Regions from separate parts of the Homo sapiens genome. Here region 1 is linked to region 2. The links come from fine-mapping of genetic effects on gene expression. A gene starts in region 2. The other region holds a variant in brackets. All regions are shown on one strand. Distances are from middle to middle.

Region 1 (10,716 bases), 42 kb after region 2:
CATATTCCATACAATAATTTCACTCAAATTTATCACAGAATCTTTGTCCATTGTACTTGAGCCACTTTCGGAATCATCTAACAGTTTTCAGGAGAACGTTGCCTTCCCACCCATCGTGTTGTTTGAGGTCCAGGCTTGAGAGTCCATGGCCCTGTGGCTGAATGTGTTGTCCTGAGCTGCCAGCACTCCTCTGCATCGCATTAGAACAACAACTGGCCTTCCCATTTGTCCCGTAGGTGGCTTTTCCCATCTTCATTTGATGTACTGCTCTTTCTTTTTTGTGTGAGAGAGGTTCTCGCTCTGTCAGCCAGGCTGGGGTGCAATAGTCAGATCATTGCTTACTGCAGCTTCGACCTCCTGGGCTCAAGCAATCCTCCTGCCTCCCCTCCCTACCAGCTAGGACTACAGGAATACAGCATTGTGCCTGGCTAATTTTTAAAATTTTTGGAGAGACAGGGTCTCACCGTGTTGCCCAGGCTGGTCTCAAACCCCTGGCTTCAAGTGATCTCCTGCCTCAGCCTCCCAAAGCAGTGAGATTTCAGGCTTGAGCCACTGTGCCCAGGCTAATGTACCACTTTTTAAAGCAATCTTTAAAATGCTTGTTTATAACTTTTGCAAACTCTTGAGATTTTACAACCGTGTCCCCAGGAATAACAATTAAGTCTGTATTCAATTTCTTTGACACCAAGCCTCTCGAAGGCCTCCATAAACATCAAAAACTAGCTATTGATTGGGATCACTTCAGGTTAATGTGTCATCCCCAAACTGTAGATTATTGTCCAAACAAATGTAATTGACAGGGCCTCATGTAATTGGAAATTGTCAGGCAATTATCGTGTGTCAATTAAAAGTAATAAAAGTAAAAAACATAAACAAAACTAACAACACATGTATAAGATATGTATTCTAAAAATTACACAATGATGAAAACAATATCAAAGAAGACTCAGGCTGGGCACAGTGGCTCACACCTGTAATCCCAGCATTTTGGGAGGTCGAGGTGGGAGGATCGCTTGAGCTCAGGAGTTCAAGACCAGCCTGGGTAACATGGCGAAATCCCATCTCTACAAAGAATACAAAAAGTTAGCCAGATGTGGTGGCGTGTGCCTGTAGTCCCAGCTACTTGGGGGCTGAGGCAGGAGGATCACTTGAGCCTGGGAAGCAGAGGTTGCGGTGAGCTGAGATGGCACCACTGCACTACAGCCTGGGTGACAAAGTGAGACCCTGTCTCAAAAAAAAAAAAAAAAAAGAAAGTCTTAAATTAAGAGATATATCATGTTCATGGACTGGAAGACTCAACATAGTGAAGATGTTTCTCTACAAAAAAAAAAAAGAAGAAGAAAAAATTGTTAGAGCGAAAATGTCAGGCTTTTTTTCAAGAGGATAAAAACTGCAGGTATTGGCTAGGCACAGTGAAACACGCCTCTAATCCCAGCACTTTGGGAATCTGAGGGAGGTGGATCACTTGAGCCCAGGAGTTCCAGACCACCCTAGGCAACATGGTGAAACCCTGTCTCTACAAAAAATTAGCCGGGCATGGTGGCCCACCTGTAGTCCCAGCAACTTGAGAGGCTGAGGTAGGAGAATCATTTGACCCCAAGAGGTTGAGGCTTCAGTAAGCTGAGATTGTGCCACTGCTCTCCAGCCTGAGCGACAGAATGAGACCCTGTCTTCAAACAAAACAAAAGCAAAACAAAACAAAACCTGCAGGTATTTATAGTTTGCCACATTTTGTTTTATTTTCCCCATCTTTGGAAATCAGCTCCAATTTTGACTGCCGTGTAATAGAAAACATGCGGACTTTAGAGTTATTCGAACTCTAAATCCTAGCTCTTCCTCTGACAAATGATGTGACTTTGAACAATGGCTCCATCCCCCTCAGCTTCAATTTCCTACTGTTTAAATTGGGATAACAATGTCTACATCCCAGGACTATTCTGAGAATAATATAGTCAGAGTTCAAAAAGGTTAGTCTTTTTTTCCCACTGATTTTTTAAAGAGCTTTTTGTGGTTAACCCTTGATTGTGCACATGCAAATATTTTAATTTATCCTTTATAACATTTTGGGACAGATTAATAGGCAAATCTGTCAACATTTCCCTTCATCGTTTCTGGATATGTATATTTTTTTCACAAAGAGATAGATGTTCCATGAAGTTAAAGCTTAGGCATCAGGGTCCCTCACTTGCCTGGGCCTCTTCCAAGGCTGCACCTAATTTTTCATTTGTGATTTTGTTTTCTTTTTCCTAAAGAGACCTCCACCACCCCTGCCAAATTATGTAAACTTCAGGCCCTACAGAATCTGGAACTTTCCCGAGTAACGTGCTTAGAAAAGTCACGTCACCCTAGGCCGGGCACGGTGACTCACGCCTGTAATCCCAGCACTTTGGGAGGCTGAGGCGGGCAGATCACCTGAGGTCAGGAGTTCAAGACCAGCCTGACCAACATGGCAAAACCCTGTCTCTACTAAAAAATACAAAAATTGGCCGGGCGTTGTGGCAGGCGCCTGTAATCCCAGCTACTCGGGAGGCTGAGGCAGGGAGAATTGCTTGAACCCGGGAGGTGGAGGTTGCAGTGAGCCGAGATCATGCCATTGCACTCCAGCCTAGAAGAAAGAGGGAGACTCTAAAAAAAAAAAAAAAAAAAAAAAAAAAAAAAAGAAGCAAAGCAAAGAAAAGAAAAGTCACCTCACCCCAAATTATGAAAAATTTTAATAGGCTTAGCTTTATATCTTTTCTTTTGGCTTATTTTCTAATTTTTTAGTACTAAAGTAGATTACTAATTTTCTTCAAAGAATTTTTCTCAGAACAAAATAGAGCTCCACTGCTCATTCATTCACTCATTTTATTTACTGGTTCGTCCAAGCTCTTCCCTCACCTTTCTGTACCTAGCTGAGTTGTGAAGCAGCTGGTGGGTTCAGGGGAGGAGAGAGGAAGGGACAGAGCTAGAGGGCACGGTGGCCCTGGATGGAAGTGATGGTACTGGGGTTGGGGGCAATGTATTAGTTTCTAGGACTACCGTAATGAAGTAGCACAAACAGGGTGTCTTGAACAACAAAAACATATTCTCTCATTGTTCTGGAGACTAGAAGTCCAAAATCAAGGTGTCAGCAGGGCATGGGAAGGCTCTAGAGATAATCTGTCCATGTCTCTCTCCTAGCTGCTAGCATTGCTGGCAAACCTTCGCAGTCCTTGGCTTGTAGAGACGTCACTCCAATCTCTGCCCCTGTCATCAAATGGCACTCACCCTGCATGTCTGTGTGCCACTTCTCTTATTATAAGGACACCATTATATCAGATTAGGGCCTCCTCTAATGACTTGCTTACATCTGCAAAGACCCTATTTCCAAATAGGAAGATCACATTCACTGGTACCTGGAGTTAGGACATCAGCATATATCTTTGGGGGCTGGGGACATAATTCAACCCATGACAGAAGGATTAGGGGGCTGATTCTTCCTCACCTCCGGTCCTACACCCCAACCCTCAGAAGCACCTGCCCCTCCCTACACTCATTCCGCCCTGGTTACACTTCCAAGCATGAGGAGCTCATTGCCTCTGCAAAGGGTCCTTTACTTTCTCTCTTCAGTTTCTGTCCCCTACCCCAACATGCATTTTGGTGTATCTGGTATGAGCACCGGCTCCTGAGTTACAGTGTAGGGCTTGAATCACCACCCCATGACTTAATAGATGTGTGGCCCAGTACTTCAAAAGAGCATGCATGATATGATGTGGCTCTGTGTCCTCACCCAAATCTCATGTCATCTCAAATTGTAATCCCCATAATCCCCATGTGTCAAGGGAGGGACCTGGTGGGAGGTGATTCGATCTTGGGGGCGGTCTCCCCCATGCTGTTCTCATGATAGTGAGGGAGTTCTCACAAGGAGATCTGATGGTTTTATAAGTGCTTGACAGTTCCTCCTTCACACTCTCTCTCTCGTTGCCTTGTGAGGAAGGCGCCTACTTGCCCTTCACTTTCTCCCGTGATTGCAAGTTTCCTGAATTCTCCCCAAACATGTGGAACTGTAAGTCAATTAAACCTCTTTTTTTTTTTTAATAAATTACCAAGTCTCAGGTATTTCTTTATAGCAGTGTGAAAACAGCCTAATACAATGCAGAAAAGGCGTTCATAGCTACTTGCCAAATACATGAAAGATCTTGGGCAGGTGCTTTGCTTCTCTGAGCCTCAGTTTGGGGCTCAGACATGGGGATAGTGAAGGGGGATAGTGAAGCACCTGCCTCAAGGATGTTGGGATGATTACAAGGGATGACTACCTTGATGCATTTGGTCCAGCCTGGCATATGCTAACTCCTCGGCAAACATTAGCTACAATAATCATAATATGTCCTAGCAGAGCTCAGGATGCAGTGCAGGCACTGCACTGGTCTTAATGAGGGATTGATATTAACAAATGATAAAAAGCAATCCTCCAAAGGCAGCCCATCTCACTCAGCATAAAAGCCAAAGTCCTTACTGGGTCTGACTAGTTCTCTGCACTGGCCGGCGCCCTTCTCCTCAGCCTCAAACCCCCTTGCCCTCTGCTTGGCCAGATTGTTCCTCAGACAGGCCAGGTGCGTTCCCAATCTCAGGGCCTCCAGCTTGGCCTCCCCTCTGCCAGGAATGCTGTTCCTCCAGATGGCTGTGGAGTTCACCCCCTGGCATCTCTTAGATCTTTGCTCAAAGGCCACCTCCTCCTGAGGCCATCCCAGAACCCCCTCTTTCAAGCAGCACTCACTCCACTCCCTAGCCCTTACTCGCATCCCTGCATACAGCACTTTTTACTGCCTGGCACTGTACGTTTGT[T/G]GATTTACTGTCTCTCTGCTATCACCCAGAACGTTGCTTCCAGAAGAAGACTGTCTCATTACTGTTACATCTCTGGCCCTGGAGTAGCCCCTGGCAAATATGTACTCAGTACATGTTTGCGAGACGCATGGACTTGTAGAACAGTTCCACAGCTGTCCATCACTGATGTTCCATACCTAGCGATGCGGCCCCTCGAAACGCACTGGAGAGCTGGGCAGACCAAGGATAATTTCACAGGTAAGTCAGATAGAGCCTGGGGAGGTGCAGCGATTGGCCTAGGCTCCGAGACTGATGACCCGGGAAGCTGGGGCCTGCGCTCTGCTCTGTGGCTCGGCATGCTGTGCAGCTGACCTGAGCAGCTCTTGAGGAGTCACTGCTCATTTACCAGTCACATCGTCGTGTCATGCACCGTTGACAGGAGACCAAGCCCAGGGCAACATTCTCACTTCCCCCTCTCCATGAGCGTGACCAGTGGGTCTCGGTCTTGCCTCCGCGTGGGCCGTACAGGACAAGGGCCAGAGCCTTGCAACCCGACCCACCTGCCAGGGGTGGTCTCCCAGCATCCCGGCAGAGGGCGCTGTGGGACAGCGTTGCTGATCGGTCGGGGACCTGGGTCCAGCTCAGCCTCCTGCGCTCCCCCTGGGTCAGGACGGGCAAGGGCAGGGCTGCGGGGCGGGGCAGGGCAGGCTGTGGGACTTGAATGTCCTGTGTCCGCTACTCTCTGCCCTGTGCTCAGGTGTCTCCTCGTCCAGGGCTCTTGCATATTCTTGTAGGACTTTGCTTGGAAAATTGTCTAGTGAGAAAGTGATTCGTTTTTGGTTTGCATGAGGCTATGGTTGCAGAGTTAGAAAGGGAGGGAGTGTTGGTTTGCGGCAAAAAGTTTAGGGATGAATATTGAGTTTGAAGTGCTGTGGCACATTCAGAAATATGTCCAGGGGCTGGTTGGATGTGCGAGTTAGACATTCTGGAAAGGGGTTTGGACTCAAGATACAGATGTCATCAGCAGATAGCTGGTAATCGGATCCACAGAAGTGAGTGACAGTGTTGAAGGAGGGAGGCAAAACAGCAACATTCAGGGGCCAGGTGAAAAAAGAGGGCTTTTAAAGGAGACTGAGGAGAAGCTGGGAGAAAAACAAAGTGGGAAAGAGGAAAGTCAACTGGCAAGTGCTTTTGATTGATCAAATAAGACTGAGCTATACCCTTTAGTTATATCTAGCCAATGATCTTGTTAGTTCAGAAGATGGAAGCAGTTCTCCTGGGGAGGAATCTTAGAAAGGAGGGTGACATTCATATCTATTGGGCTGCTATGTGGGATGCTTTCCCTAGTGACTTTTACATATTAGCTTGTTTAGCTCTCATGACAATCCTTAAGTATTAACCCTGTTTTCTTTCTTTCTTTTTTTTTTTTTTTTTAAATTTTTGAGACAGGGTCTTGCTCTGTCTCCCAGGCCGGAGTGCAGTGGCACGATCATAGTTCACTGCAGCCTCAAACTCTTGGGCTCAAGCAATCCTCCCACCTCAGCCTTCAGAGTAGCTGGAACTACAGCTGCACGTTAGCCACATTTTCATTCATTCATTCGAGACAGGGTCTCACTCTGTTGCCCAGGCTGGAGTGCAGTGACGTGATCATGGCTCACTGCAGCCTCGACCTCCTCGGCTCAGGTGATCCTCCCACCTCAGCCTCCTGAGTAGCTGAGACTACAGGTGTGCATCATCACACTCAGCAAATTTTTCTACTTTTTTTTTTTTTTTTTTGTAGACACAGGGTTTCCCCACGTTGCCCAAGCTAAATTTTCTAAAATAATTTCTAAAATAATCAAGACTCAGATAAAAAATATCTTACCTAAGATCACCCTGCTTGTGTTAGAGATTAACCCTAGATCGATCTACAACTCGAGTCTGAGGTCTTCCCACTACTTCCTTCCTCTATGTCCACATCCTGCCATGTAGGGTAATTTTATTAATTCATGATTTGGTTGAACAAATATTTGAGTTTACCGGGCACTGGGCACTGTTCTAGATGCTGGGAATACAGCAGTGAAAAAAACTGTCAAATACTTCATGCTCTTCACATTCTAGCAGGAATCAGATATAACCATGCAGTATGTCATGTAATGAGACATGGAGATACAAAAAGGAAAGAGGGATGAGGATGTGTTTAGAGTTTTTAAATATATATATGAATTTCTTTCCTGCCCCTTAAGATCTGCAGGAGGTTATCAGAATTGACAATGAGGACTTTACTAATAAAAGTGACATTTGAAGCTGGGCGCGGTAGCTCACGCCTGTAATTCCAGCACTTTGGGAGGCCGAGGAGGGCGGATCACGAGGTCAGGAGATCGAGACCATCCTGGCTAACACGGTGAAACCCCGTGTCTACTAAAAATACAAAAAGTTAGCCGGGCATGGTGGCGGGCGCCTGTAGTCCCAGCTACTCAGGAGGCTGAGGCAGGAGAATGGCGTGAACCCAGTAGGTGGAGCTTGCAGTGAGCCAAGATCGCGCCACTGCACTCTAGCCTGGGCAACAAAGCGAGACTCCGTCTCAAAAAAAAAAAAAAAAAAAAAAAAAAAAGTGACATTTGAGCCAAGACCTGAGGAGGGGGAGAAAGCCAGTCATCCAGTTATCCAGAAGAAAGGAGGAACATAAAACCTCCAAAGTAAGAAGATGCTTGGCATGTCCCAGGAGCAGCAAATCCAGTGTGGTGGGAGCAGAAGGATTAAGTGCCAGCAGTAGGAAATTAGATCAGAGAAACAGGTTGTGGGGCAAGGATGGGGAGAGGGCTAAGAAAATCAGATGTGGGGTGATGTAGACCAAATTAAGTATTTTGACATAAAAATCCCACTAGGTGGGAAGCCATTTGGCGGGTTTTGAGCCAAGTGGTGCTGTGTTGAGACGACAAAATGGAGATGAGGGCTAGGCAGGGAGGCCAGTTAAGGCTACTGTGGTACCTAGGTAAGAAATGAGGGTGGTGGTTGAAGAAATGAGTTCTTCAATTTCTAAAATGTTTGGAATGCAATCAACATGATTTGATGCTAGAATGGATGCAGAGTATGACAACAACTGAAAAAGTGTTGAGATCAGGCATCTCCCATTGGAAACTGAGAAGAAAAAGATGTCCTGGGAACAAGTTAACACTTTCAAGGAATGAGTAACTTGTCAAATGCTGCCTACAGGAGGATCAAAACCTACTGGATATAGCATTGGAGTTACTGGTGACCCTAAGAAAGTTTTGGTGTGGGGAACCAGGGGAGTGAAGCCCTACTGAGGCTTCAGAATGGGGAAAATTAGACAACTCTTTCAATTTTGCAGTAAAGGAAAAAAAAATTGGGGGCAGTAAAGACATGCAATCTTATTTTGAAGTCACCATGAAGTGAATGAAGATTAGTCACTACATGCTGATACTAAAGAAATTGGCAATCATGCAAGGTACATCCCAGTTATACCCAGATACTGCCATTCCACAGTATGGTAGATTATAAAGTACACTGTTAGGTGTCTTTAGAACAAGGTAGCAGCAGTATTATACATTCTCTATGGGTTGAATATTTTGAGTAGCTCTTGACATGTTTGGGGTGGGAAGATTAAAGCATGATTCTGTAAGCAATGACAAACCACTGCGTACCGGGTTTAGTTCATTTTTTATTGAGACGGAGTTTCGCTCTTGTTGCCTAGGCTGGAGTGCAATGGTGCCATCTCGGCTCACTGCAACCTCCGCCTCCCAGGTTCAAGCCATTCTCCTGCCTCAGCCTCCCGAGTCACTGGGATTGTAGACATGCACCACCACACTCAGCTTTGTATTTTTCTAGAAGAAAATAGGGTTTCTCCATGTTGGTCAGCCTGGTCTTGAACTCCGACCTCAGGTGATCCGCCCGCCTTAGGCCTCCCAAAGTGCTGGGATTACAGGCGTGAGCCACTGCACCCAGGCCCAGGTTTAGTTCTAAAACTTCCTTTAGCCTGATACCCTGGCTGAATTAGGCAAATTCTGGCAATAAGAATTGACTAGCTGATCCACCTAACCAGTTGCTCCTTTTGCTAGGTTAAAAATTAGTTTCCTCCCCTTCGTGGGGAGGGTTGGGCAGAGAAACAATTTACAGCCCCTTTAAAATTTAGGTAGGTTCATACAAATCTGTTTAGCTTTAAATTTTGCTGTACTCAAAGTACCCAAAAGCTTATGACTTGTTAAAACTTCAGGGGAAGATGAGTGCCATAATGCAAGATTTAGCTTCCCTGGCCCAAATAAGACAGACACAAAAACATTGATTGGTTCTGCCTCCCACCCACTGGAGCATGTGCAGGCAGCCTCTTCTGACTTCAAGGTTCTAATGGGTTCGGCAGTATGATAGTCTGCCTTGAGGGTCTCCCCAATCACCAAGAACAGGTTCTTAGGTGTTGACATCAACCAGGACTCCAGTAGCACACTTCAAGAGTCCCCATCCATGCCAATGTTAGAAGTAATCCTAGGATTGTCAGAATGTTCCAGGGCTGGAGACAAATCCTTCGTGTGTGTTTTTGGAAAACATGCAGAGGTTTAGTTGAATGAAGTCAATTTTACTGGGACACTGGAATTTTTCCAGAGGAAGCAGGGATCTTCCTGGACATTTGGGGCAGCTACTGGGAATGATGCTTGCAGGACAGCTAAGCTTATCCAGAGATCACCATGTATTTCAGTCTGACAAAAGATAAATTGTCACCAAATTTTAGTTGCTATGTGTAGCTATGTTCCTCCAAATTCATAAGACTTGTGATCTTTGATCATAAAAATCGTTTATATTGGTTAGTTTCAGTAACTCAAAGGAAATAAACACCTTAAATCTTGTGTCTCATCTTGAAGAGTCTAAAAATTCCTTCTGGAACCCAGGCTTGTACAGCAGAAAAACAAAAATTGGGAAGTCCTTAAGTCAAACTAAGGTGGGTCTCCTATACCTCAAAAACAAAGCTGACAATTCTCCCAGACTATGGATGCCATTTACAGCCACACATCACTACATCAAGTATCACAATGTTTATTGATAGATACAAGTATATAAAATCAGGGCATGAACATGACTTGATAAATTAAGTAGACTTAATTTCAATACTATAATAGGAGGGACCAATTCAAATTCTCACCATTTGTTTCACACCCACAAAAACCACTTCAAGGGCATTAACGATCTCTCAAAACTGATCAGTTTTGTGCAAGTAAACCATGTTTCTTTTAAAAAGACTTGTGCACTTGCCCAGGCTCAAGGATATTAAAATCTAGCACATAAAGCCCATTACTAGAGGTAGAAATACAGGCAATATACTATTACGGCAACAACCATCAATTACAGTTAAGAATTTTTCTGTAACAACCAAATGGATAATCAAATATTGCAACAACTCAAGTATTACTGAGCAAAGTGCATTTCTACAGTATTCAGTGTTGCTATTCAGTTTTCTAACTTAAAACAGCCTATGATAACTGGCAGCAAAGAAGGTCCTTGCAATAGACTGCCTCTGCTTGAGAACTTATGATGTAATTATTGCATGCTGCTAATATACTATCTAAACATTAAAGATACTCCTAAAATATTTGATGGTAGACTATGATTAAGACATTACACTACAAAAAAACCTTATGCAGAAGGAAATCCTAACTGACGTGCTTCTGCTTTAAATATTGTGAAAACATTACAGCGGAATGAATTTTCGCAGTGGTTAGGTCAAATGCAGTTACATCATAGCAACAGTATGTTTTGCACAATTTAAGGCTTTGGCTGGTTCTTTAGTCAGCTTCTTCCTCTGATTCTTCTTCTTCAGCAGTTTCTAACCAGGTTAGCCACTGATTCACCTATAAATTAAGATTTGTAAATTAAAATAGTTCATGATATAAACAGAAATCCATCCAAAAAGTTTTAGGTGGTACTACACAGTTTTAGAATATGAAA
Region 2 (10,716 bases):
ACTCCCACCCTTGTCGTCTACACTATTGACAGATTACTGTGCCCCTGTTATAGGGTTGTTCTGAGGATTAAATGAGTTTCTGTATGTAAAATTCTGACACAAGTAAATATTCAATACCTGTTAGGTGTATTAAGTGTAGATGTTAACTTTCTGTTTAATTACTACTAGGGGAAGTAAAATCAATCAAAAAAGTAATTTGCTCAGGCATCCCAAAGATATGACATACTTAGGGATAATTTCCATGCTAATATCTTGCCTTGGGGATTCACAGACCAAGTAGACAATGTTAAACACCAAACCCATCTGAGATACAGACCTGTGGTTATAAGTGCTTAGGAGAGACTATTCCCCCATTGCACCATCTATACCTTTTACACCCAGAACATCTGTGTTGGTGGGATTTTTTTTTAGTTCCCCCACTTTTACTTAGGGTGTAATCTTTTAAGGGTTCCAATGTGGGCCCAAAGCCTCTAATCCTGTTTCTGTGTGAACATTAAGACACAATTCACTGGAATATATCAGCCACCACTACCTGGGTAGTCTTAGCATGGGCTTAAATGCCTGTTCTTCAGATTATTAGATAGCTCAGCTATTCATTTATGAGGACATTTACTGTGTGTGTGTGTGTGTGTGTGTGTGTGTGTGTGTGTTTTCAGACCTGCAAATCTAGGTGTTTTTAGCAGGAGGGTTTTCTGGTTATTCAAATCTGCCAGAACTAAGATTTCTATCAGAGTGTTTTACTGACAGTCAAATTAGGTGTGTTGACCTTTATTCCCAGTTCTTACCTAAAGGAGCATTTTATGTAATTTTAAATTCCTGAAACTATAGTGATGTTTTGGAGATGAATATTTATTGAAACCCCAGAGGAAACTATGACACAGAGTATTCTAAGACAACTGCCCAGGCAACTGTAATGATAAATTATAACCCTAAAACTTTTGCCTAATGATGATTTATCCTAATATTTCATAAACAAGCCTTATTTTAATAATTAATGGGGAAAAGTATAATTTAAAAATTCAGCTGCAACAACAGGGGATACTCAGCCATAAAAAGGAATGAAATAATGGCATTCACAGCAACCTGGATGGAGTTAGAGACCATTATTCTAAGTGAAGTAACTCAGGAATGGAAAACCAAACGTCATATGTTCTCACTTATAAGTGGGAGCTAAGCTATGAGGACACAAAGGCCTAAGAATGATATGATGGGCTTTGGGGACTCGGGGGTGGGAGTAGGGTGGAGGGGTGAGAGACAAAAGACTACACATTGGGTACAGTGTACACTGCTTGGGTGACAGTTGCACCAAAATCTCCAGAATCAACACTAAAAAATTTATCCACATAACAAAAAACACCTGTTCCCCCAAAACTATTGAACTTTTTTTAAAAAGGAAAATAATAAAAATAATTCAGCTGCAGAGATGTGTCCTGCTGATAGGCCTCTGCTACAGGCCGTACTGTGTTCCCCTCAAAATTCATTTATGGAAGTCCTAACTCCCAGTACCTCAGAATGTGACTATATTTAGAGACAGGATCTTTAGAGAGGTCATTAAATTAAAATAAAGTCATTAGGGTGAGCCCTAATTCAATGACTGAAGTTTTTATAGGAAGAGGAGATTAGGATTTAAACTCAGAGAGAGTGAAGAACATGGGAAGCCACAGAGAGAAGACGGCCATATACGAGCCAGGGAAAGAGGCCTCAGGAGAAACCAAACCTGCCAATGCCTTGGACTCTCACTTCCAGCCTACAGAATTGTCAGAAAATACATTTCTATTGTTTAAGTCATCCAGTCTGTGTACTTTGTTATGGGAGCCCTAGCCCCAGCAAACTAACATAGCTTCGTATTGTTTCTTAATAATTTATACAAACTACTTAAAACACTTAAAACACTTCAATTTGTGTCCTGCTATTTAAAAGATATCTAACTTAAGATCTAAAATATTATTTAGGTTGAGCGTGGTGGCTCATGCCTGTAATTCCAGCACTTTGGGAGGCAGAGGCTGGAGGATCACCTGAGCCCAGGGAGGTCAAGCCTGCAATGAGTCATGACCACATCACTGCCCTCCAGCCTGGGTGACAGAGTGAGACCCTGTCTAAAAAAAATATATATATATATAATATATTATATATTTATATAATTAATTATATTTATATAATTATATATTTATATAGTATATTATATATTTATATAATTATATATAATATATATTATATATTTATATAATTATATATAATATTTTATATATTATATATAATATATTTATATATTTATATAATATATATTATATATTATATATAATATATATTATATAAAATATATTTATATTATATATAAAATATAATATTTATATTATATATAATATATATATAATATATACACACATAATTATATATAACAAATTATATGTATATTTAATTTGTTAAGATCAACTTTCTTCACTCCTTTTTAATAATTAGCATATTTCGCCAGATGTGGTAGTGTCTGCTTATAATCCCAGCTGCTTGGGAGGCTGAAGCAGGAAATTGCTTGAGCCCAGGAGTTTGAGGCTGCAATGAGCTGTGATGGTGCCACCGTACTCCATCCTGCATGACAGAGTGAGACCCTGCCTCAAAAATAATAAATTAATTATTAGCATATTTTATCAACATATAAAATAACTTACTCTTCAGATTGGCTAAATGTATATATTTACCAACATTACAGACAACTGCAATACCAACAACATAAAAGTAAGAATCTTAACAATCTATTTAGAACATGTACTCAACAAAACCCACACTGGCCAAATACACTAACTGCTTTGCCTTGATCTGGTGCACTCAGGCCCAACATGGGGCATGGTGTTTTGTGAATGGACATTATGCAATCATGCCAGTTGAAATAAAATCTTTGAAATTGCTCCAAAACTGGTTCTACAGCTTTAAAACATCTAATTTCATCAGTGCCTGCTACATTTAGGGAAAAACAAAAGGCTGCTTGTAGCAACCTGGTACCAAGAGTGTAGTTTAAGTCTCAATTGTTGCCAGGCCCCTGATAGGTGATTCTCTCTTCATTGTCCTTGCTGATTCCTTGCAGGCCACCTTCCTCTTCACACCCTCTGTGTGCTAGAATTCCTCAGGCTGGGAACTAGGCCCTTCTCTTGTCACTCTCCATTCTCTCCCTAGGTTATCTAATCTAATTTAATCCCATAGTTTTAAAATTCATCTTTATGCCAATAGCTCTCAGACCTATTTCTCCAGGTTAGAAACTGTCTTCTAAATTACAGATCTGTAATTTAGACTATCTGAAATCTGCATCTGGCTGTCGCAGAGACAGTACAAACTACAAACAACACATGTGAAATCCAACTAGTGGTCTACCCTTGCCCAAATGTGCTCCTCCACTAATCTTTCCTATTTTAGGAAATGACACATCATTCACCCAGTTGTTCATGCCAGAAACTGGACGTCCTTCTTGACACTACTTTTTCAGTGACCCCGGCCTATATCCAATACATTGGCAAGTCCTAGTGACTAAGGTATCAACAGATGATTGATAGACAGATAGATAGATGATAATCTTAAATCCATCCACTTCTCTCCACCTCCACTGTCTTAAACCTATTCCTATTTATCATCTGTGACCTAGACAGCAGTTTCCTAAGTGGTCTGCCCACATCCTCTCGAGACACTTTCCAATCCATCTTTCACAACATAGCCAGAACAATCTTTTAAAACCAATTCTTTTTTTTTTTTTTCAGACAGAGTCTCACTCTGTCGCCCAGGCTGGAGTGCACCGGCATGATCTTGGCTCACTGCAACCTTCACCTCCGCCTCTGGGGCTCAAGTGATTCTCATGCCTCAGCCTCCTGAGTAGCTGGGATAACAGGCGTGCACCACCACACCCAGCTAATTTTTGTATCTTTAGTAGAGACAAATTTCACCATGTTGCCCAGACTGGTCTTGAATTCTTAAACTCATGTGATAGGCCACCTCGGCCACCCAAAGTACTGGGATTACAGGCATGAGCCACCGTGCCTGGCCAAAACCAATTCTCTTTTATTCTTTCTCCCTCTCATTGACACATACACATCACTTAAAGCATTTCAATCACTTTGCATGTAAGATAAAACCCCAAATCATTAATATATACTAAGTCAAAAGAAATTCTGAAGGACAAAAGCATTTAGAAAAAAAGTTTACTTACAAAAACACTTGCAAAAGTATACAGGTGAATTTACGCTTTAGAAGGACTGATACATCAAATGAACACACACCAAGGTTTACAGTTAGTTGCTTCATGGTGAGAAAAGAGCAATTTTCTCATATGATTGCCATATGACCCCAAGCTCCCACATATCTTCAGACTGTAGCAGTACAAAAGTCAGCAATTAAACTGTAAGAGAGTCAGTAATATATGGGAAATGCTGAAAGTTTTGTTCACTTTGGAGACTACAGAGTGTGATACTGTTGTTTCACGGTTTATTTCAGAACACAAAGTATTTTGTTTTTCCTGTGGGAAGTAATATGTACACTCACTCATTTTGGAAACAGGACAAGATGTCAGTTTTGCTTTATAAGCATAAACCCCAGCATGTCTGGGTACTTCTTATATCAGCTTCAACTCATGCCACTCTCCCCCTCATTTTCTACATTCTAGTCACATGACCTTCTTGCAGGTTCTCAAAGCTCTTCCCCAACATGCCGTCCCCTCTGTCTGGTACACATTCCCCTACATACTTTACCTGCCAAACCTTACTCATTTTCCCAGATGCAACTTAAATGTCACTTCCTCCAAATCCCACTCTAAACTGAGTGCCCCAACTATTCAATCATAGCACTCTGCATTATCAGGTATGATGCCTTTGGATGCGAATAACTGAAAAACCAAACCTATCAATAGAGTTTTTAATATCAGGGAGGCTTTTGGGCATGGAGAATAACAATCACCACTATGTGTACTTTTGTTTAATGCTTACTTTATAAACTTTAAAATATATTAAACAGTATTTCTGGGAAATACTGTCTGATGCCATCCAATGCAGTATTCACTAACCACATGTGGCTATTGAACACTTGAAATATGACTAATCCAATTAAGGAATTTAATTAGGAATTTTTTTAATTTAAATTTTGGAAAAACTAAAGTGTGTGAACCTATTTTTTCAACTGCAAACTTTATAAAATCTAAACACAGATCCAATATTTCCAATTAAAATCAGGCAACTGAGATCAGTGTATGCATGTGAAATACATATCGAATTTTCAAGACTCAGTATAAAAAAATGTAAAAATTATCTGAATTTTTATATTGACTACATGTTGAAATGAGATTTTGGATATATTACGTTAAATAAAATATATTACTAAAATTAATTTCCTCTTTTTTTTTTTTTTGAGGTGGAGTCTCGATCGATCCCCAGTCTGGAGCGCAGTGGCTGATCTCGGCTCAGCGCAACCTCCGTCTCCCGGGTTCAAGCGAGTCTCCTGTTTCAGTCTCCCTGGTAGCTGGGATTACAGGCGCCCACCACCGCGCCGGGCTAATTTTTGTATTTTTAGTATAGACGGGTTTTCACCATGTTGGTCAGGCTGGTCTCGAACTCCTGACCTCAGATGATCCGCCCGCCTTGGCCTCCCAAAGTGCTGGGATTACAGGCGTGAGCCACCGCGCCTGGCCTCATCTGCAATTTTACTTAAATCACAAATATACTAGATCTTCTTACATGCTTCGAAGAACTAAAAAAAATAAGACATGAATTATCACAATGATTACCGAATTAATTGTAAATTTTTTTATTTAAACTAGTCACAAAGGTATCACAGGTATGACTTACACCTAACGGGGGCCAAAAGATGGGTTGCGAAACGAATGACTGAATTATCCCTAACAATCTTGGGAAGAAAACAGGATTGGCCAGGCCCATCCCGAGAGGTCCACGTCAGGCAGGGGCCCCGCCCACCGCGGGACCAAGCGGCTACGCCTTCCAAGTTTTCATTCGGGGCCGCGCCAGCGCTGAGGAGAGTCAGACGCCAGATGGTTCCGAAGGTCCTGCAGGCTCTCGGGGCACCCTACAGCCGACACGCCAACAAAAGCTTCGGAGCCGCCAACCCCAAAACGGAAACACCGGAGCCACAAGCTGAGCTCGCGTAGGGCACGCTCCCCCGGGAGTGCTTCCGGGACAGGGGGCGGGGTCGCCGGAAGTGGCCGTCCGCCGTCCGCTGCTCGTTGTTTAAGCGGCTGACGGGAAGGAGAAGCCAGAGCTCCAGCGGCGCCGCGGGGCGGCAGTCAAGACCAGAGCCGGAGCCGTCACTCACCTCTGGATTAGCCTGAAGCGGAGACTACCGGCTGCGGAGCGGCGGGGCGAGACACTTGCTCGCCTTTTGACCCCATCATGTCGCGGGGCTCCATCGAGATTCCCCTCCGGGACACTGACGAGGTAAGTGTCGTGTATGGAGGCGGGTGGGGGCCATGAACTTGTACGATCGCCCCCACCGACTTCGCTCGACTTCGTTTCTGAAGCGAGAGCATCCTCCTTCCCTAAGAGCCCTGATCGAAATACCTGGCCAAGGTCTGATCATCATCTTCTTCAGCCCCTGTGCCCTCTCAGGCTGGGGGCACCGCGTCTCTGCAGCCTCAGGGCCACTCGGAGAAGGAGTTCTTGAAAGTTCCTCTCCAGCCTGTTCGAATTTGACAGTGCGCTACTCTTTTCCTAACCAACCCACGGGAGCAGAGGTGTGAGAGTACCCGATAAACTGTAAAACACCTCGCAGATTACAGAGGTGGGCGCTGATGTTTCCGGGGTTTATATGCTTGCTGCTCAAACTCGAGATCTTTCCCTGGGAATATATAGGAGGTCGCCTCTTCTCCCTTAGAAACTCGAGTCTGTCATGGTGCGCTGTGTTCTCTACACCAACTCTCCTTCAACGAGATATCCCAAGATTTAGCCGCCCCTGTGTGCTGATAAAATTTAACCTCCTCTCGCTTACCTATGTCTCATTCATGGGTGGCCTGTGGCTTGTCTGAGTAAAGCTCTCAGCTTTGATGTTCAGTCTTCTTGTATATCTTTTATTTTTATTTTTTTTGTTTGAGATATAATATTGAGGTATAAAATTCAGTGGTTTTTAGTGTATTCGCAAAGTTGTATAGTCATTACCTCTAATTCCAGGACATTTTCCTATTATTATTTTTGTGCTTACAGTCAGGACTGTCTGTTACACGCAGGTGCCACCTCCATGATTAATGTGTGCAGTGGCATTCAACTTTGCATGGCTTGTAGGGTCATGCATCTCAAGGAGTCAGACCTATGGCATAATAGTCTCTAGGGTGCTTATCTGCACTTTACTTGGATTCTATGTTAAGTAGGATTTTGTTTTGTTATTTTTTAGTAAGCAGACCATTTCTAGTATTTTATAGTTCCAGTGATCTGGGGACAAGTAGCAGGGTTTGTTTGCTTCTCTGTGCTTTAACTTTATTATAGTATAACCTATTCGTCATGTGCTCCTTAAACATTAACATGGATTAGCTCAACCGTATTGAAAGTGAACACGTACTCTATGTATATGCATGTTGATTATATTCACGAAAAGCAGCAAAGATGAAATGTGAATTTTAAAGTGGAATAAGAGTTAAGACCTACCTTTTGTATTTTAGGTCATTGAACTTGACTTCGATCAGTTACCGGAGGGAGATGAAGTTATCAGTATTCTGAAACAGGAACACACACAACTGCACATATGGATTGCTTTGGCGGTCAGTATTCATGTAGCAAATATTTTTTATTTGTTGACTAGGAAAATATGTAGTTTCTGTTTTCAGATATAGTAATAGCCAGCTTGGCTGCATGGTAGATTAGTTATACCATGTGTATGGAAGTTAATTGTGTTAATAATTTATGGAACAATAAGGCCGTTTTCCTAAATGATATGCTGCTCTACTGGTGAATTAGTATATGTTGGTAAAGGCAAAATTCATTTAAGTAGTACTCTATATTGAATATTTTATTATTTAGTGCTTGTTCAGTGAAGGCTGGCTTATGGTTTATAGATAAGCTGAAAAGAAGCGAAGTGCTTCTGTGTGAACATTGCTGCTTAACATTGTTTCCTATAACAACAAAACACTTCCCTTAAAATATTCTAGAATGTGATTAGGTTCTGGGAAAATCACTTCACCCAAAATCACAAAAGTTCTTTTGGGTGAAGTTTATCTCAGACTTATGTTTTTTGTCCTATTTAGTCTCCTTCAATGTGAATCTTACTGGAGATTCTCAAGAAAATCCAATCAGAAACCCTAAAATTCTATATCCTCTACTTGCCAGCATCAGCTGCATAATGATGTTTTCTTTTTATAGGAATAGGTAATATAAATGTTACAGTCATTATTCCTAAGTAGATATGCCACATTGCTTTCATACAAACATACAGAAGAGGCTCCTAATATTGTCTTGAAGAGTCAGAGAAATAGGTCTGGAATTGGGCTTATATCCAGTGCTCAAGACTGCTCTAAGAGTTTCTTCCTTTTAGATGTGGATTTACAGAGAAGTATTTTCAGTGACAAGCAGTGCCTTCTTGACTTGAAGTGCCAACTTTTCTTATTCCATGGAGACCAAGCCTCCTTGTCACACACATTTTTTTTAAAACCAGATGGTAATTTAGATGTATATATAATATATATTATATATATATATATTTTTAAGTACATATGCCCTCCTTAACAGCACTTAAACAAAAATTAGAATATTGGAGGATTAGCATGGCACCTGTAGTAGAATAAATTAATGACACATTGTGGGATATAGATTTTTACAGGGAAAAGAATGTAGGCTTTGGGGTTAGATCAAGTCCCGGCATGGCTGCTAACTAGCTATGTGACCTTAGACAAATGATCTAACTTCTGAGCATATGTCCTCATTTAAAATATAGAGATGTTAGCATCTACCTCATAGAGTGGTTGTACAGATTAGAGAATATGTGTATGAAATTCCTTTCATGGTATGTGACCAATAGTCAGTGGTTAATAAGTGGTGGATATTCCACATAGAGACAGAGTCTCTCTATTTTGCCCAGGCTAGACTCAAACTCCTGGGCTCAAGCCATCCTGCCACTACAGCATCCCAAGTAGTAGATTACAGGTACATACCACCACACCTAGTGGATATTTCTTTTATTATTTATAAGTCAAACAGATGCCTAGAGAAGTTGTTAAACAGGCCCAAATCACAGATAATTTTTGGTAGATCTAGAACCAGAACCCAAGTTTTCTATTTAGAATTCTTCATATCTTTCACTATTGTTTTCTCTCTTAGGCTCTACTTATCTGAAAATTTTAGTTAGAAATCAACTAGATAAGCAGCAGATTGGGAACATTGTGAATGATTCCAGTTTTTTAAACAGTTTTATTAAAGTCTAATGGATTTATAATAAACTGCACATATTTGACATTTACCATTTGATAAGTTTTATCATCTGTATATACCTGTGAAACCATCACCACAATCAAGATTAATGAATACATTCATCACCTTCTGAAAGTGTCCTCTGTACCACTCCCCACAAGTCCCCCACCCCACCCCTAATCCCTGTGCCAGACAACCACTGGTCTGCTTTTTGACACTAGAGATTGTTTTACATTTTCTAGAGTTTTATATAAATGGAATCACACAATATGTACTCTTTTTTTGGTCTGATTTCTTTCATTCAGCATAATTATTTTGAGATTTATCCATGTTGTAGCATGTATCAGTAGTTCATTCCTTTTCATTGTAGGATAGTATCCATTTTATGGATACACCACAGCTTGTTTATCCATTCACCTGTTAATCAACATTTTGATTGTTTCCAGTTTTTTGTTATTACAAATAAAGCTGCTGTAAACATTTGTGTACAACTTTTTATATGGACATATGCTTTAGTGATTCTAATTTGTTTCATTACCTTATAGCTGGAATACTACAAGCAAGGAAAAACAGAAGAGTTTGTAAAATTGTTGGAAGCAGCACGTATAGATGGCAATTTGGACTATAGAGACCATGAAAAAGACCAGATGACTTGCTTGGATACATTGGCAGCGTATTATGTACAACAGGCTCGGAAAGAAAAGAATAAGGACAATAAAAAGGATCTTATTACACAGGCCACCTTGTTGTATACAATGGCCGATAAAATTATTATGTATGATCAGGTAAAAATAAAGTCAAATTTCTTTCCATTTATGAAGGGAGAAAAGCACATGAAAGCAAAATGTGTGTGATAGCAGATTTTTTGAAAGAGTTTTTCTTCAAGTAACATGGTTGATAGAGTCAAAAAGAAGAAAGGTTCCTCATTAAAATCGGAATGCTTTGGTTTTTGTACTGTTTAAGTAATATGGACAAATGTAGTACATAAAACTTGCTCCAGTAATTTTATTATCTCCAGGTGAATTTCAAGGATATTTTAAGGAATTTAAATTTTTCTTTTGGTTGTTGTTATTGGCACAGAAGACTTACATTTCAGGATAATTTCTTATTTTGTAATTAAGAATTGCTTGTTAGTAGCTTAAGCACGTTACATTTGATAGGGGAATTTGCACTGTGCTCCACCTCCTTCCTATTTGGTTTTCACTTTAGTGTTACATGTTCATGGTATATAGGGGTAAAATCTAAGATAATACATTACTTCATAGAACCATTTGTTGGGAAGAGCCTGCTTCTGCCTACTTGAGGGTGACAAAATGGATCAAGCTGATGCACAGTTTCATTT

Which allele goes with the higher level. Positions count from the first base shown, and alleles are read on the strand shown. Sizes are in standard deviations (SD) of each study's normalised expression.
With allele G in place of T in region 1, the expression in testis of the gene that starts at base 6,208 in region 2 is higher (small effect, 0.22 SD a copy in GTEx).

Evidence for each region. PIP is the estimated chance that this variant, and not a neighbour inherited with it, causes the effect.
Region 1: its variant is fine-mapped to the expression of CTR9 in testis (GTEx, PIP above 0.99).

The regions. Positions count from the first base shown.
Region 1 is chr11:10,787,263-10,797,978 of GRCh38, forward strand. It overlaps EIF4G2 (eukaryotic translation initiation factor 4 gamma 2), which reads right to left. Exons shown (of 22, transcript NM_001418.4): 22 at 9,792-10,619. The coding sequence ends at 10,554. Among named protein-coding and RNA genes, the nearest start is that of SNORD97, 9.0 kb to the right of the region's middle. RefSeq lists enhancers at 4,596-5,145, 5,146-5,695 and a silencer at 5,356-5,495. The variant T/G (reference allele first, on the strand shown) is at 4,804.
Region 2 is chr11:10,745,039-10,755,754 of GRCh38, forward strand. CTR9 (CTR9 component of Paf1/RNA polymerase II complex) reads left to right here and starts at 6,208. Exons shown (of 25, transcript NM_014633.5): 1 at 6,208-6,419; 2 at 7,634-7,732; 3 at 9,920-10,159; 4 at 10,640-10,716. The coding sequence starts at 6,375. RefSeq lists enhancers at 5,577-6,077, 5,876-6,025, 6,046-6,095.